Regions from separate parts of the Homo sapiens genome. Here region 2 is linked to region 1. The links come from fine-mapping of genetic effects on plasma protein levels. A gene starts in region 1. The other region holds a variant in brackets. All regions are shown on one strand. Distances are from middle to middle. Region 1 holds the start of SELP (selectin P). Region 2 overlaps SELP (selectin P).

Region 1 (8,341 bases):
TCACCCAGGCTGGAGTGCAGTGGCATGATCTCAGCTCACTGCAACCTTTGCCTTCTAGGTTGAAGAGATTCTGCTGCCTCAGTCTCCCCAGTAGCTGGGATTACAGGCATGTGCCACAATCCCTGGCTAATTTTTTTGTATTTTTAGTAGAGACTGGGTTTCACCATGTTGGTCAGGCTGGTCTTGACTCCTGACCTCAGGTGATCCACTCACCTTGGCCTCCCAAAGCGCTGGGATTATGGCATGAGCCACTGAGTCTGGCTGAATGTTAGCTCTCTTGATGCTGTCCCATAAATCTTGTAGGCTTTCATCATTTCTTTTCATTCTTTTTTCTCCTCTCACTGTATATTTTCAAAAACCTGTCTTCAGTTCACAGATTCTTTCTTCTGCTTGATCAAGTCTGCTACTGGTGATTTCTACTGCATTTCTCACTTCATTCATTATATTTTTCAGCTCCAATTTCTTTTATGATTTCAATCTTTCTGTTACATTTCTTATGTTGTGCATTTATTGTTTCTCTGATTTCACCAAATTGTTTCTCTGTGTTTGCTTCAAAGTAACTGAGCTTCTTTAAAAACAATTATCTTGAATCCATTGTCAGGCCATTTGTAGTACTCCATTTCTTTTGGGTCAGCTACTGGGAAATTATTGTGTTTCTTAGGTGGTGATATTTTAATTTGGGTTTTCATGTTTCTTGCTGCCTTACACTGCTGTCTGAGCATCTGGTGGATCTGCCCCAATTTCAGGCTGTATGGGCTGACTTTGGTGGAGAAATACCTTCTTATGTGGAATAATGCGAGGATGCTGGCTGGGTGGGATGCAAAAGTTCTGACTTCAGTAGGGGCAAAGCTGTGTGGTCTCCATGCAGATCTGTCAGCTGAGGTTGGTGTTAGTGAATACTACAGGGATCCTTAGAGGCCAACACTGTGGGTATCTACAGTGGCAATGAGGCTGTTGAGGTTTTCAATTGTGACAAGTCCTCCATATCTCTTTTTTTCCCCACCTGGGAAGTCATGACTGAGGACATCCCTCTTGGAATTAGGTCTAACTTGCAGGCCTGCTCCTGGTGGTGGTGACACTGGTGTCTGATGAACAGTGCCCATGGAGTGGCCAAGAGCCAAGGCCTGAAGCATGGGCATGCATGGAGGGACCACAGCACCAGATTCAATTGTAGCAATGGTACCAGTGCCCAAGGCACAGGCATACTTACTATCACATTGATAATGGTGTGTAAAATGCAGGTACTTATAAAGCAGCTAAGGAGCCAGGGACTTTACTGCATGCATACGCAGAGCTACAGTGGCTCCAGGATCCAGGGTGTGGGCTAGCTCTCCTTGGTGGCTGAGCTGGTGACTAGAGCATGGACAGGCACAGAGAAACCTTGACTCTAGGACCCAGGGTGTTCACTAGCTCACTATAGTGGTGGCTCTGGTGTTGGAGGTGTGGGTGTGTGTAGTACAGCCTCAGAGACAGGGTCTGGAGCGCAGGTGTGCACATTACTACAGCAGCTCTGGAGTTGAGAATATGGGTTACCTTTCTACAGTGGCTGAACTAGTGTCTGGAGCAAAGACTTTCACAGAGAGAACTTGGCTTGGGGTCCCAGGGTGAGATCTAGTTCACAACAGCAGTGACTCCAGTGTCTGAGACATGAGGAGGTGCACTGCAGCCACAGAGCCACAGTCCAGAGTGTGAATATCTGTAGAGCAGCCACAACTTTTGGGGATCAGGAACACACATAGACTTGTGAGAGGTGGTAACCCTGGCCCCAGTCCTGGGGCAGTGCAACAATAGCTGCTTCTTGGTGAGGGGGTGTGAGGGGTAGTGCAACTGTGTTTCCCTTTTTAGCATCCTGCTATGGGAATGGCTGTTGGATAAAAGATGCCAGTGTCCTCTGTGGAGCAGGACACTGGGGGCCTCAGTGGCTCTGTGTCACATGACTGACACAGATAGCCTACAAATTTCTTTATTCGTAGCTATCTCCTGGTGTCTCATATATGCCAGTCTCACCGGTGATTCTTCTACATGGATATTCTTTCTTTTCTCCATTGTGTTGTTCCAAATTCTTTAACAGGCTCTTGAGCCCCATCCCCCAACTCCCCACCCTTGTGAGGGCTATTTTGGTTTGTGTATAACTGTCTATGTTTGTTTTTTTGTTGGGGCATAAGGCTGACATCTCCTACTCCACCATCTTGCTAATGTCACCTGCATAGGAATCTTTTTATGCTTTCCTTATATTCACTAAAATTTAACAATATCAAACTTAAAAACATATGATCAATTGAACTTATTAATATCAAACTTATTATAAATAAGAAACTACCAGGCTGGGCATGGTGGCTCATGCCTGTAATCCCAACATTTTGGGAGGCTGAGGTGAAAGGATCACTTGAGCCCAGGAATTCAAGACCAGCCTGGGAAATATAGAGAGACCCTATCTCTAGAGATTTTTTTTTTTAATTAGCCAGTAGTGATGGCACACATCTATAGTCCCAGCTACTCAGGAGGCTGAGGTGGGAGAATTGCTTGAGCCCAGGAGGTCAAGGCTGGAGCAAGCAGTAATCATGCCACTGCACTCCAGCCTGGGCCGCAGAGTGAGACCCTGTCTCAAAAAAAGAACCTACTAGTCTACATACCACACTTCCTCATCCCCATCTGAGACTATATATATTTTTTCTAACATGAGGCAATGCCAAAAAGAGGGGCTGGTGAGTGAAAGTAAGAACAGAAAGACATGGAGGCAAGTCTTATAGAATAATAGCCAACACTTAAACTTACACTTAACAGCGTGATAGGTATTGTTCCAAACACATTAAATTCATTTAATGGTCCTTACATGTCTATGTATTTGGTGATTATTATCCTTATTATTCACATTGCTGAGTGTATTATTCTGTTCTCATGATGCTGATAGAGACATACCCGAGACTGGATAACTTATTAAAAAAAAAAAGGTTTAATGGACTCACAGTTCCACGTGGATGGGGAGTCCTCACAATCATGGTAGAAAGCAAAAGACACGTCTTACATGGCAGCAGGGAAGAGAGAGAAATGAGAACCAAACAAAAGGGGTTTCCCCTTATAAAACCATCAGCTCTCATGCGACTTATTCACTACCATGAGAACAGTATGGGGGAAACCACCCCCATGATTCAATGATCTACCAGGTGCCTCCCACAACCTGTGGGAATTATGGGAGCTACAATTCCAGATGAGATTTGGGTGGGGACACAGCCAAACCACATCACTGAGGAAACTGAGTTATAGGGAGATTAGTAACGCCCAACACAGCTGGTAGGTGGTGGAGCCAGGCAGTCTGACTCTAGGGTCTGGACTCTGAACTGCATCATGCTGCCAAGAAGTTCCTCATTTTTTCCTCTCTCTAAGTTTCCCTTATTCCCCTACAGTCATTCCTTCAACAGCATTTCCTTCACCATCTTTTCTACTTCTACTATATAATTAATTTTTTCTTCTTGGTCCCAAATTCCAACGTGCAAATGCAGCCTTATATACCCTAATTCATCTTTACCTTTAGACTTTCTTCCAATGTTTCTACTTCATTCCATTTTAAATTTATCCATGAGATGCCTATTTACAAGCTGTAACCATCATGAAGTGAATGAAGAATAATACCTACTACTGTACAATAGAATTCCAAGAGTATAAATAGGAGTTATGGCTTTCTGACTTGAAACTAAATACTTGATACTTGATTTTGCTGTCTGAGATCAATCTGAAAAGTAATAATAATCACTAACATTTGTTGAGCATCAATTGTGGGCCAAGTGTCATTTCAATCACTCTGTACATATTAACTCATTTCATCCTACAACAACCCGGTGAGGCAAGTTCTGTTATTCTGTTTTACAGTTGAGGAAACAGAGGCATAGAGAGCTTAAGTAGTTTGCCCAGTAGATAGCCAGAAGAGGAGCCAGGATGGGTCTCGGGCAGTTTAACAGCACAGCTGAAGTCTTAACCACTATGCCAACAGCTTTTTGGTCCTACACATCCCATGGGAAGAGGAAAATAAAAAGGTATCTATTTGTATACCTTTTTATTTCTGATATAAGAAGCAGAATTCCTTTCACATGACCTATGTCTATTTAATACGTCATTTTGAAACTTACCAATAAAATTTCCCAAGCGCCAGAAAACTGTTAGTGGCTTTTTCCATTTCTCTCTATTTTTTTTTGTGCTACTAATTTTGCTTCTTTCCCTCAGAAGGCTGCCGGAATAGTAAACATTCACTGACATGTCATAATTACTGGAAAATGGGCACTGGAAAATCACATTGTAATTAATTCAAAGCATGTTTTCCAAATGTACTACTTTAAATTGGAGCTTATATCATAATCCAAGGAAACCTTTGTGTGTGTACTGTTCCCACATTGCTCAGCCTGGGATATCCAGGAGTAATTCACCTTGCGCCTGCCTCCAGACCATCTTCCATGGAAGGGGGTGACCCCTTGCCTCTTGGCAACCACTATTTCTAAGCTGCCAACATTACTCTTGCATTATCAACATTCTAACTTCATGGGAAGGGCTGTGGTGAGTTTCTGGAATGTGAATAGGAAGTTGTTTTTCTAAACAGCCTGACACTGAGGGGAGGCAGTGAGACTGTAAGCAGTCTGGGTTGGGCAGAAGGCAGAAAACCAGCAGAGTCACAGAGGAGATGGTGAGTTTATTTTTTTCTGCATGGGAAGTGGTTGAAGTGAGTTGGAGTGGTATGGAGTAAAGTCAGGCAGGTAAAGGTTCAGAAAGTGAGGAACAGCGATAGCCATGGAGTTTTATGTTGAATTGCCTATTAGATTTTGTGAGTACTTTTAAACTTGCTGTCCACTTTGACCCTCCCAACACCCTTGTGAGTTGAGGTTGCTATTTCTATTTTACAAATAAAGCCATCGTGGTTTACAGAGGCTGTGTTTTATCTAAGCTTCACTGTTAGGCTACATGATGTTGGGATCTGGGGCCTGTCCTCTGGCTCCGCAGCTGCTGTTCCTCCTACTAGAATTTATAGGGGCTCTCTGAGAATAGATCATGGTAAACCTGTCACCCCATTTTCCAAGACTGTACTTCTCTCTGGGATAAATGATGGAATAAATGGAAGACTGGGTAGGTGCCCTGGGACAAGCTTACAATTGAATAGTTTCTCATCCCCATCCCTCCCATTTCTTTCTGTGAGCCTATGAATCTTCTGGGACTGATCTGGAATATCCACATAGTTTCCTTTTCTGCCCTAAGACTCAATCTTGTTAATGACTCAGTTTCTTCTTCTATAAAATGGATATAGTAATAATACTCTATAGTTTCATCATGAGGATTAAATAAGATTTTGCTGAAAAGCATCCAGATCTGAGCCTGACACATAGTAAGTGATTAGTAAATGTTAGCCATTATTGTTACAATAAAAAGAAAATTCTTAGGAATAGTGGGGTTTAGGATTCAGGGAAGATCCAAGGATAGCTAGGCATTTTGAACTCAGCAATGTTATATGCTCATGGATAAGATGCACGTGGTTAGGCTACTTCTAATTCAGGGAAGATCCAAGGATAGCTAGGCATTTTGAACTCAGCAATGTTATATGCACCTAGATAAAATGCACATGGTTAAGCTACTTCCAATTTTCCTCAGACTTTCCAAGAGTATCCCACATAGTCCCAGGGTCCGAAATCCTGCAGTCTGTGGCTATGGAGGAACCAGGCAGGTCTCTGTTTTTGAGCACCTTTCTGTGGGACTCCAGAAAAAAGTACCGCATACACCTGATTCATCCTACTGCTTTGCTTTACTATAGCACACTTTTCAAGTACTTATAATGTGGGTTTCTGTGTTGGGGAAAACAGGAATAAGAGTATGATAAAGAGAAGAGGAAGGAGTTTGAGCCTGTCTTAAGTTTGAACCACAATGACCTAAGGATATGAATTACTTTTGTCCTGTCTTTTTGCATGTCATACTTCTGAATTGGTTAACTTAAATGAGCAGTTATTCCTCTCTTCCTTCTACTCTCCTTGGCATCCTCCTCTATTTCAAAGGTATGAACTTATTGGATCAGAGAGTTCTTTGAGATTTTGATGAAAGTTACAACTTGTCTTTCCCAGATGAAAGCAAAAACATCGACATAAACACCAACCTTTAGAGACAACCACAGGAGGTTCCCAGACCTCCATGTGGATCCCAGGGTAAGAACCCTTCTCGATTGCCTCCTGGGCTTTATGTTCAGAAGCCCCTCTCTTGGTACCCTGAAATTAGGCTTGAGCTCTACAGCGAAGTGCTAAGGCCCCAGCCCTGGAATGGTTTTTAATATTTCAAAGACAAGACCTCTTCCTTTTCCTCTGAGCACATTTGGCCCCAAAGATTCAGAAACCTCAAACTGCCTGTGTAAATTTTGCTTCAAGTTCAGAGAGTGGCTTTAATTAACTTTTAGGACCTGAGAAAATGAGGATAAGGTTTTTCTGGTGGGGTATTTTCAATCAGATAGATCTCAGAGGAGTAGCTCTTGATTGGGAACTTATAGTTAAATTGCACTGATGTTTGTCAAAGTTTTAGCGGGCTATGGCCGGGCTCAGTGGCTCATGCCTGTAATCCCAGCACTTTGGGAGGCCGAGGCGCATAGATCACTTGAAGTCGAGAGTTCAAGAGCAGCCTGGCCAACATGGTGAAACACCATATTTACTAAACTTACAAAAACTGGCTGGGCATGTTGGCATGTGCCTGTAATCCCAGCTACTCAGGAGGCTGAGGCAGGACAAACTCTTGAACCCAGGAGGTGGAGGTGGCAGTGAGTTGAGATCACACCACTGAACTCCAGCCTGGGTGACAGAGCAAGACTTGTCTCAAAAACAAAACAAAAAAAAAGTTTTAGTGGGCTAAGGAGCAGGTCTGGATTTTCGTCCATTTATACCTTTTAACCACCTTATGTGGCTTCCAGTCCTTACTCTTCTTTTCATTACCTGTTTTTCAAAATGCAACTAAAATAGTTCAGACTCTCCTGGGCTAGCCACCAGCTCTTAGAATGTGCATCTTCAGAGATCTTTAAGTAGAAGCTTATTGATCAAATCCTCAAAAATCAAAATGACTTACTACATAAAAAACTGTGTTTAGAAAAAACCCTGGACCTAAACCTAGAGAGTAGGCACACAGTGGTTTTATAAATGACATTCATTATATTGTCTTCAAGGTGTCTAATCTTTTTGATTAAAAAGTAAATCAGAAACTTCATGAAGTCAAATACAGAGCAAATCCTCACTATTTGTAGAGATATAACTCATCTCTGATCCAATAGACTTTTTAAAAAATTTTAAGTGTCGTACTTTATTTTTAATGCTAATATTTTACTCAAAATAATGGCAATTGGTAGTCTAAATTAAATATATGCTTGGATTCTAAGTGTTGATGTCCTGGGTCCCTTCTTGTCTATATTCATAATTTGCTCTTTGGCTTAGAGACAACCTCTTTTCTCACTGTATTTCTTTTTCCACCCCTAAGCTGGGCTACCAATATCTGTGCCACACCACTAACACCACCACCGTCCAGAAACATAAGGGAACTAATGTATTAGCTGTAATAGCTTGTAACATCTGGGCTTTGCTACCAACAAGTTGTATAGTTCTGCATCCTCAACAACTCTCATATTCACCTCCCCTATTTGCATTCCCACTGATGCCAGACCAAACCTGTCCCTCTTTAACTCTCACTGGGACCATTGCAATAGCCTCTTCTTTTGCAGTGCAATCTCCCTGATTGTAACTCATTTAAAAAAAAAAAAGTATCGCACTACTCTCACCCCTATAATATCAGCATTTTTGGAGGCCAAAGAAAAAGTATTGCTTGAGCCCAGGGGCTCCAGGCCAGCCTGGGCAATATAGTGAGAACTTATCTCTACAAAAAATTAGCCGGGTGTGGTGATGCATGCCTGTAGTCCCAGTTACTCAGGAGGCTGAGATGGGAAGATCACTTGAGGCCAGGAGGTGGAGGTTTCAGTGAACCCAGATCATGCCACTGCACTTCAGCCTGGGCAACAGAGCAAGACCCTGTCCCCCAGCCCCACAAAAAAAATCATACCACCATTAAGTGCATGTGTTCATGATACTTCTCTGTTCAGAAGTATCCCTTCTGCCAACTGGTATTTGTGACCCACAAGATATGGTCTCAAACTACCTTTTCAGTTAACCTCTAGGATCTCCCAATCTTCAGCAGGCTGGAGTGCAGTAGTGCCATCTCAGCTCACTGCAACCTCTGTCTCCTGGGTTCAAGCGATTCTCCTGTCTCAGCCTTCTGAGTAGCTGGGATTACAGGCATGCGCCACCATGCCCAGCTAATTTTTGTATTTTTTAGTGGAGTTGGTTTC
Region 2 (8,337 bases), 19 kb after region 1:
TGGATCAGGATGGACATTACCAGGATATTAGCTCATCCTACTGCTCTCCCAGTCAGCTCTCTACCCCTTTCTGGGCTATGCCTCCCTAGAATTATCTCTTATCAGATAACCTTGACTGCCACTAGCTGTTTCAATATGCCACTACTTCCCCTTCACACCCAACCTTCAAAATCCATTTCTGCAAGACAGTCTTCCTCAATAAAGCTTGCCAAAAAAATTGCAAGATAGAAAAAAGATAAAAAATTACTGGCATAAATGATGACACTCCTCTAACCCACAACAGTGGTAGAGACATCACTAATTAATACAACTTTACCTGAACACAGATGGGTTTTATCTCCACCAACACAGTACTCTAAGCAGCCACTACCATTGATTGTCGTTTTGCCATCTAAGATGTAAAGGATGTAGAGAAGCATCAATTATCCATGGGAGATGAGAAATAGATATATTTACTGTAATATGAAATTAAGTTTGATTGTTGGAATAATTCTCCACATGTCAGGAATTATTAGACCTCAGAGCAGGCTATCGAAAAAAGATTTATTCATTGAATCATCATGAATAAATCATCTTCTCCCTGGAGATCCAAAGGAATAGACAAATTGCTAACCTATCTATTCAGGAAACCCTGAAATGGGATAGAATACAGAACATTGTCTCTTTTTTTCCCCTAGAGTTCTGAGATCCCAAGGAAGCTATAATTGGGGAAACATTTGTATGCTCCAAGAACATAGGGCAGGCAGGGGTTGCTACTGTAAGGTATTAAGACATTGGTGGGGTTAAGGTCAGGGAGCGAAGTGAATAGGATGTGGACCAAACCTGTATCCATTTAGCTGCTATTGCCTCCTACATCTTCTCTTTATTTGAACCCTTCCCAGTGTCTCAGTGCAGCTTCACCAAATTCACTGGCTGCCACAGGAACTTCTTCCTATAGAACCTTGCATGGTTTATAGAATTTTAGTATCTCAGAATTGAGAGGAAACATAGAGATCATGTAGCACAGCATATCCACATATGACATATGGATATTCTTTTGTAATATACTTCCAAGTGAACCAGCATGTGGACAGGGCTTAAGACAGAGGAAGTAACCACCAGAAAACAGTTCAGCCATAGAACTTACCCCCAACTATGACCTCATTAATAAAAACATCTCAGTGCTTTGAAAGTATCAATTCTAATACTAATTCTCATCAAGTGCATATACCCTAAAATACTTTCTTGCAGGAAAGAAACCATGGCCCTTCTCTATTCTGTCACCTGAGTGGCACTATCTTGGTGAAGAGGACATGGCAGTTCAGCCATAGTCAGTACTCTCTTCGCCTGCTGTATTCAGACTCATGAAACATCACCTCATAAGATTGTTTGTCCTTTACCATGAGTACGTCTTAAACATCTCATTTGGCTCCTCTGTTTCTCCACTGTAGGATTCTGGACATAGATTTGAAGCAAATGAAAGGTGAAAGGGTTTGGGCTCTAACACTGTGCAAGCTGAGCTCAGAGAAGTAACTTGCCTAAGGTCACATAGCAAGTAGGCAGCAGAGCCAGGATTCATATCACACCTGTGTGACCCCACGCCCCACATCTGGTGCCTAACCTCAATGCAGTAATACGTGACATTGGGCTTCCATAATAAAACAATGCTTGGTTTGAAAACCACAGCCCATTTTGTACCACATAGGGTTTCTCTGTCCACACATCTGTCATTGGCTCCATTTGTCCCTCTGTGTCCACACACAACAATACCCTCCTTAGGAAATACTAAATGCAGTATGAAATGGGAGCCACGCAATACTCCAGCAGGCCCCTACAATGCTTTTCACAAGGGACAGGTTGGCTCTCTAGAAGATACTGTGCTTCCCTCTTGTCTGGCTAGCTCAGTCCTATCTGAGAGGGGATGAGTCTGTGGTCAAAACGAGAATTCAGCCTTTCCTCACATCTGTGAATGTCCATGACTCTGACCTTTCCATATCTATGCAGCCTCCTGCCAGGACATGTCCTGCAGCAAACAAGGAGAGTGCCTCGAGACCATCGGGAACTACACCTGCTCCTGTTACCCTGGATTCTATGGGCCAGAATGTGAATACGGTGAGGCTTCCTTTTTGTTGATATTATTTTGGTTTTATGCTAGAGATGATGCCAAGAAGTAAATAAATCATGTTGAAGTCTCTCCAGTGAGAATAGGATGGTACCAGCCCCCCTCTATCATCTGTCTCCTCCACTCAGTGTCCCTAGACACACACTCTAGGTAAAAACATTTTATTCTTGGGAGAAAACATTGACTCATAAATTTCAAAAAAGAAAAGGGAAAGGGAAAGGAAGCAAAACCAACAGAACTTTCAGGCTAATTTTACTTGTTTGAAGTAAAAACTTGTGAAAGAATGACTATTTCCCAAGATGCAGCCAATACAAAGAGACCAAGTAGAGATGGATAGCTTGGGTTAAAAGTTTAGAAAATTAGAGTTAAGAGGGTTACACAAATAGTTACAGCTTTCAGCAAACATGACATTGCTGTTAATTCTACATGGAAAATAAAAATCACTATTTTGTCTCCTGCAGTGAGAGAGTGTGGAGAACTTGAGCTCCCTCAACACGTGCTCATGAACTGCAGCCACCCTCTGGGAAACTTCTCTTTTAACTCGCAGTGCAGCTTCCACTGCACTGACGGGTACCAAGTAAATGGGCCCAGCAAGCTGGAATGCTTGGCTTCTGGAATCTGGACAAATAAGCCTCCACAGTGTTTAGGTATGTAGACCTTATTCTTTTCATCCTCACTGACATAGAATTTTGGGGGAGAAGAGGACACAATGAGCTTTCTCCATTAAAAAATGTGAGAAATAATGACCATCTAGGTTAGATGGAAAACTCTGGTTATCACTGTTAACTGTCAACCAGAGTAACATTAATTTCAATTTTCATGGTATTTTTTTATGGGTAGAGTGACTTAGTCAGTTTAATTGTTGATTCGCAGGCAAAAACATTACAAAGGGACCCCTCTTTCCCTTTGTTAATTGTAAAGTAAACAGAGTACAATGATGAGGACTTAGGGGTTAAGAATTATTAATTTGATAATTTTACCTAACTTCTCTACATGAAAAACAAGGGTGTTTGATCTTTCCAAGCAGCTATTGAAAACACCATTTAACCATTCTAGTGCATCAACCTGCCTGCCACTTTGGGAAGGTGTGACTGCTGCAGAATTTGAAGGCTTCCAAGGTGATGGACAAAATTTGTCCAAGGACTCACACTATTATTCTGTGGTTGGTTTTAGCTGCCCAGTGCCCACCCCTGAAGATTCCTGAACGAGGAAACATGACCTGCCTTCATTCTGCAAAAGCATTCCAGCATCAGTCTAGCTGCAGCTTCAGTTGTGAAGAGGGATTTGCATTAGTTGGACCGGAAGTGGTGCAATGCACAGCCTCGGGGGTATGGACAGCCCCAGCCCCAGTGTGTAAAGGTGAGTTTCAGGTAGTTGGGATGTATAATGTCCATTGCACCCAGTCCTTACTTAGTGCATAGATGAAATTGACCAGCTTATGGAGAAGCTGGCCTGAATTGCCAAAATTTAATTCTCTTCCTACCTGCCATTCAGCTAGATTGGGTTCATCTGAGATGAGAAAGGAAAAAAATTCCTTTCTTTCCCCAAACACAAATGCAGGCAGTTTCAGAATGGCCTCATTCATAATTTCCCCATAAGATTAGAAAGGGTGGCCTCTACATCTATAAGTGGACACTAGAAGACCTACTGAGACAGGTTTATAGAAGTATAGGGAATAGAGGACATTAAGAATACAGCTTGGAGGAATCTTTGTTTTTAACAGACTCAGATCACCCTGGGAACTGGTAATCCAAGTCTGGACAAACATCATTAGGGTCTCTTGACCTTTACATCTTGCTAGCTCCACCTGCATTTCAGAGGTGGTTCCACCATTGCTCTCTGTGTGGCTTTTCTCCTTTCTCAGTATCTTTCTCTTTATCCTTGGTTATTCTCTCCAGCTGTGCAGTGTCAGCACCTGGAAGCCCCCAGTGAAGGAACCATGGACTGTGTTCATCCGCTCACTGCTTTTGCCTATGGCTCCAGCTGTAAATTTGAGTGCCAGCCCGGCTACAGAGTGAGGGGCTTGGACATGCTCCGCTGCATTGACTCTGGACACTGGTCTGCACCCTTGCCAACCTGTGAGGGTAGGATTTTTCATTAGCAACCTCCATTCTGTCCAAGAAGGAATCATGGCATGGTAGAGAGGCCAAGGGCTCTCAGTGTCGGGGTGATCTCTTCTAAGTTCTTGCACTAGAGCAAGCTCTTCAACCTCCAGGAACCATGGTTTTCTCATCTGTGAAATGGAGCTAAGAATTGCAAGGTGCTTGTGAGGATTAAGTACATAAAAAGTATACAATTAAATAGCATGTATAAAGTACCTAGCATAGAGCTTCTGCTCTACTGACATATCCGAGGTATAGGACCATGTCCTATACTTGAGAGGGAGTTGGGAGCAGCGGCTAAGGTGGCTAAAGAGAGTGGTTCACCATGTAGTCTTTGAGGGTAGCCTTTGACAAAGAAGCAAAGGAAGGAACACTGCATCGAAAAAGTGTGTGATGCAATCCCAGGCAATTACATAATTCC[G/A]CCAAAATGAATTCTCTGCAATTGCCTCACACCCTCAGTTTATAAGGCGGACAGTGGTAATGGGAGAATAGGAAATTTACGATAGATTAGTGAATTCCCAGACCTGGATGACAAGCCCAACCCTGCTACTATCTAGCTATGAGACTTTAGAGAAGTCACTTAACACTTCTGAACCTCACTTTTCTTGCCTAAAACATAAGAGAGAAGAGAGAAACACTAGAGGATTTTGGTGTTTTTGTTTGTTTGTTTGTTTGTTTGTTTGTTTGTTTGTTTTGAGACAGAGTCTCACTCTGTCGCCCAGGCTGAAGTGCAGTGGCACGATCTCAGCTCACTGCAACCTCTGCCTCCCAGGTTCAAACGATTCTCCTGCCTCAGCCTCCCGAATAGCTAGGATTACAGGCAACTTTTTGTATTTTTAATAGAGACTAGGGTTTCACCACTTTGGCCAGGCTGGTCTCAAACTCCCGACCTCAAGTGATTCACTCACATCAGCCTCTCAAAGTGCTGGGATTATAGGTGTGAGCCATTGTGCTCAGCCGGATTTTTGGTTCTTAAATGCTCTGAGTCTGTAAAAACCAGAGGTCAAAGCCCAGAGCAAAGAGGTAGTCTTTACACTTTGAAAAGTTTCAGAAATAGCCTGGAAATGAAATGCTTTATCAAGGAAGAGCATGAGGAAACCAATCTTTATCAGAACTGAGGTCACTCAGGGCTTAATTGTGCTCAGGAATTCACTTTGGCTGCACTCACTTGGCAACTGAAGTCTGATTAGGATGACATCCTGTGTTCTAGAGACAAAGCCCGGTCAGGATCATTTTACAGGACTAGGTAACAGTGTCAACAATAAGCTATGCTAGTCCAGCTTTTTTTTTTTTCCCTATAAGTCCAGCATTTTCCTGTATATACTCTTTTCAGGTTCAATTTCACAGATAATGTCAATATTTAATGAGCACTTTCAATGTACAAAACACTCTGCTCAGCTCCAGAATAAAACTATGAATGACTGAGCCCAACTTCGAGGAGACCACGGTATAATGGGGAAGAATGACAATCATGTATGAACAGCGCAAGAACAGAGGCTGTGGGAGCACATTGCAGGGGCTTCTACCCTTAGTTAAGGTGGGAAGGGAGGGCTTCCTAAGGAAAGGGAAGTCTAAGCTGAGACCTGAAGGGCAGGTGAGAGTGAGTCAGGCCAAGAGGGGCATGGGAAGGTGTTCCAGGCAGTCTCTCTTTTGGAAAATGGAGGTTTTAGGGTTCTGAACACACTGAAAATGTGGACAGGAAAGATATAGCATCTAGGAATTTTTTCTGAGGAAGAACCCGGCCCTTCCATTACCTGGCTTTAGAAGATACCTTTTCCACTTAGCTATTTCGTGTGAGCCGCTGGAGAGTCCTGTCCACGGAAGCATGGATTGCTCTCCATCCTTGAGAGCGTTTCAGTATGACACCAACTGTAGCTTCCGCTGTGCTGAAGGTTTCATGCTGAGAGGAGCCGATATAGTTCGGTGTGATAACTTGGGACAGTGGACAGCACCAGCCCCAGTCTGTCAAGGTACTGTAACAGTGGTAATGTTTTTCTGTGTGTCTCAGCTCGTTAGAGGCATCAGCATCTGCACTGAGCATTGGCATGCCTTTCTTTATCAGATATTCACTGAGAACCTACTATGGGCCATGTCCTTTGTGCTTGGGACCAGGGATGAGATGAAACGGTGCGTGAAGCCAGTCTTAGGCACATGTCCACTATAGTATAGTCAAGGTGAGGTTTGCACTGATTGACACATATAGGGTGCATTGGAATGAAGAAGATGGGGCTTGGGGGAATAAATCATGCATGAGGAATAGCATGGGATGGGGAAGGGTAATGGACAAGGTGTTTAGCTCAGTCCTGTCACTTCCTGTCCTTAAGCTAGTGGTTTAGACTCTCTGAGGCTCAGTATCTTCTGTAAAATGGGGCTACTATTATCAGCCTTACCTACCTGCCTCACTAGTAGTTGTGAATTAATGTGTGTAAACGCAACTTTAAAACTCTTATAGGATTTATAGGGAAAATGATGATGATGACATGTTACCTTATAAATCACATGTCTGTGGTCTGATTTGACAAAATGATCCTCTTTCAATATGTTAGGTTTCTAATCTTTTGCTCTTATACTAAGGCACTCATGGGGGGCGGGTGTGGTGGTTCACAAGGATTATTATTTTTTTTACGAGGAGTACCTCACACTAAAGTCATGTTCCAGAAGTGTAATATTGACATTTTGTGTTTTCATTTACGGAGACCTCTGAGCAATCTATGTGACTCCTCTGGGTTCCTAAGTATACCTTGATTTTAAAATGAGGCAGTGGTTTGAAAGCAGGTCTTGAAGAGATATTTGTGCACCCATGTTCATAGCACTATTAATCACAACAGTTAAAATGTGGAAGCAACCCAAACACCCATCAATGGATGAAAGGATAAGTAAAAAGTATTCCACATACTTACAGTGGAATATTATTCAACCTTAAAGAGGAAGTAAATTCTGACCTCTGCTACAAACATGAATGAACCTTGAAGACATTATGCTAAGTGAAATAAGCCACTATGAAAGGACAAATACTGTATGATTCCACTCATATGAGGAACTTAGAGTAGTCAAAGTCATAGAGACAGAAAGTAGAACGGAGGTTGCCAAGGGCTCGGCGGAAGAGGGAAATAGGGAGTTATGGTTTAATGGATACGGAGTTTCAGTTTGAGATGATGAAAAGAGTTTTGGAGATGAATAATGGTGATGGTGGCACAATAATATGAATGTGCTTAATACCACTGAACTGTACACTTGATATTGGTGACATGGTAAATGGTAAATTAAATTTCATGCTACGTATATCTCACTATAATAAAAAATTGAACAGCAAAAAAAAAAAAAAAGAAAAAACAAGAAGGCAATAGAATAGATGGCTATACACCATGATGCTGACACTTAGTCTGAGTTATGGAATGTATTGTATATGTTATCTGGGAGAAAAAGACACAATGAGCTCTTTGACACACTTAAAACGGATCATAAGGGATTATTCAAGCCATTGTTGTCTCCAGGAAGGTAAATGTCTAATCAAGAAAAGATAGTTGGATATTCTCTTAAGTATCCAGAGATGTGGTCTCACTAACCCCCTTCATAGGCCTTCTGAATGTTTCCCACTCCTGAACTCAGTGTCTGCATGTGACGCAAAGCCTTAATGATATTATTACTATCTATTACTACCACTGCTACTAATATAGCAGCTAATGTTCATTGAGCACTTTCTATGATCTCAGTCTAACTCTATGAGGTAGTTACAATTATTACTACCATTTTAAAGATGAGAAGAGACAACACATGGAATATGTGTGCTCTCTTCGTATATGGTTATTTATTTTACATCTTTGAGATCATGGTGTATATTATAATTTTTACTCTGATTTTTTATTTAACATCATACATTGAGACCTCTCTCCTATCTTTACAAGTTAAAATATATTATTTTTAGTGACCTTTAACATTCTTTTCATGGATCCACCATCATTAATTTCCACCCTCAATTAATGGCATTTGTGTTTGTTTTCAATATTCCGCTCTTACAAATAATGTCTTCACAAAAATCTCTAAATAGATTTTTTGGTATGCATCTTGATTACATACTTAGCATAAATTCTTGGGTCCAAAAGCATGATAACTTAAAAATTATTGACACATGTT

What was found. A credible set is the group of variants that fine-mapping cannot tell apart. PIP is the posterior inclusion probability: the model's chance that the variant is causal. Protein levels are from the aptamer-based SomaScan assay of Sun 2018.
Region 2: its variant is the best candidate, but not a certain one, in a credible set for the plasma level of the SELP protein (Sun 2018, PIP 0.52).

What each region holds. Positions count from the first base shown.
Region 1 is chr1:169,626,403-169,634,743 of GRCh38, reverse strand. SELP (selectin P) reads left to right here and starts at 4,620. Exons shown (of 17, transcript NM_003005.4): 1 at 4,620-4,672. The coding sequence starts at 4,670.
Region 2 is chr1:169,607,340-169,615,676 of GRCh38, reverse strand. It overlaps SELP (selectin P), which reads left to right. Exons shown (of 17, transcript NM_003005.4): 4 at 1,984-2,091; 5 at 2,563-2,748; 6 at 3,275-3,460; 7 at 4,000-4,185; 8 at 5,988-6,173. Among named protein-coding and RNA genes, the nearest start is that of SELP, 19 kb to the left of the region's middle. The variant G/A (reference allele first, on the strand shown) is at 4,625.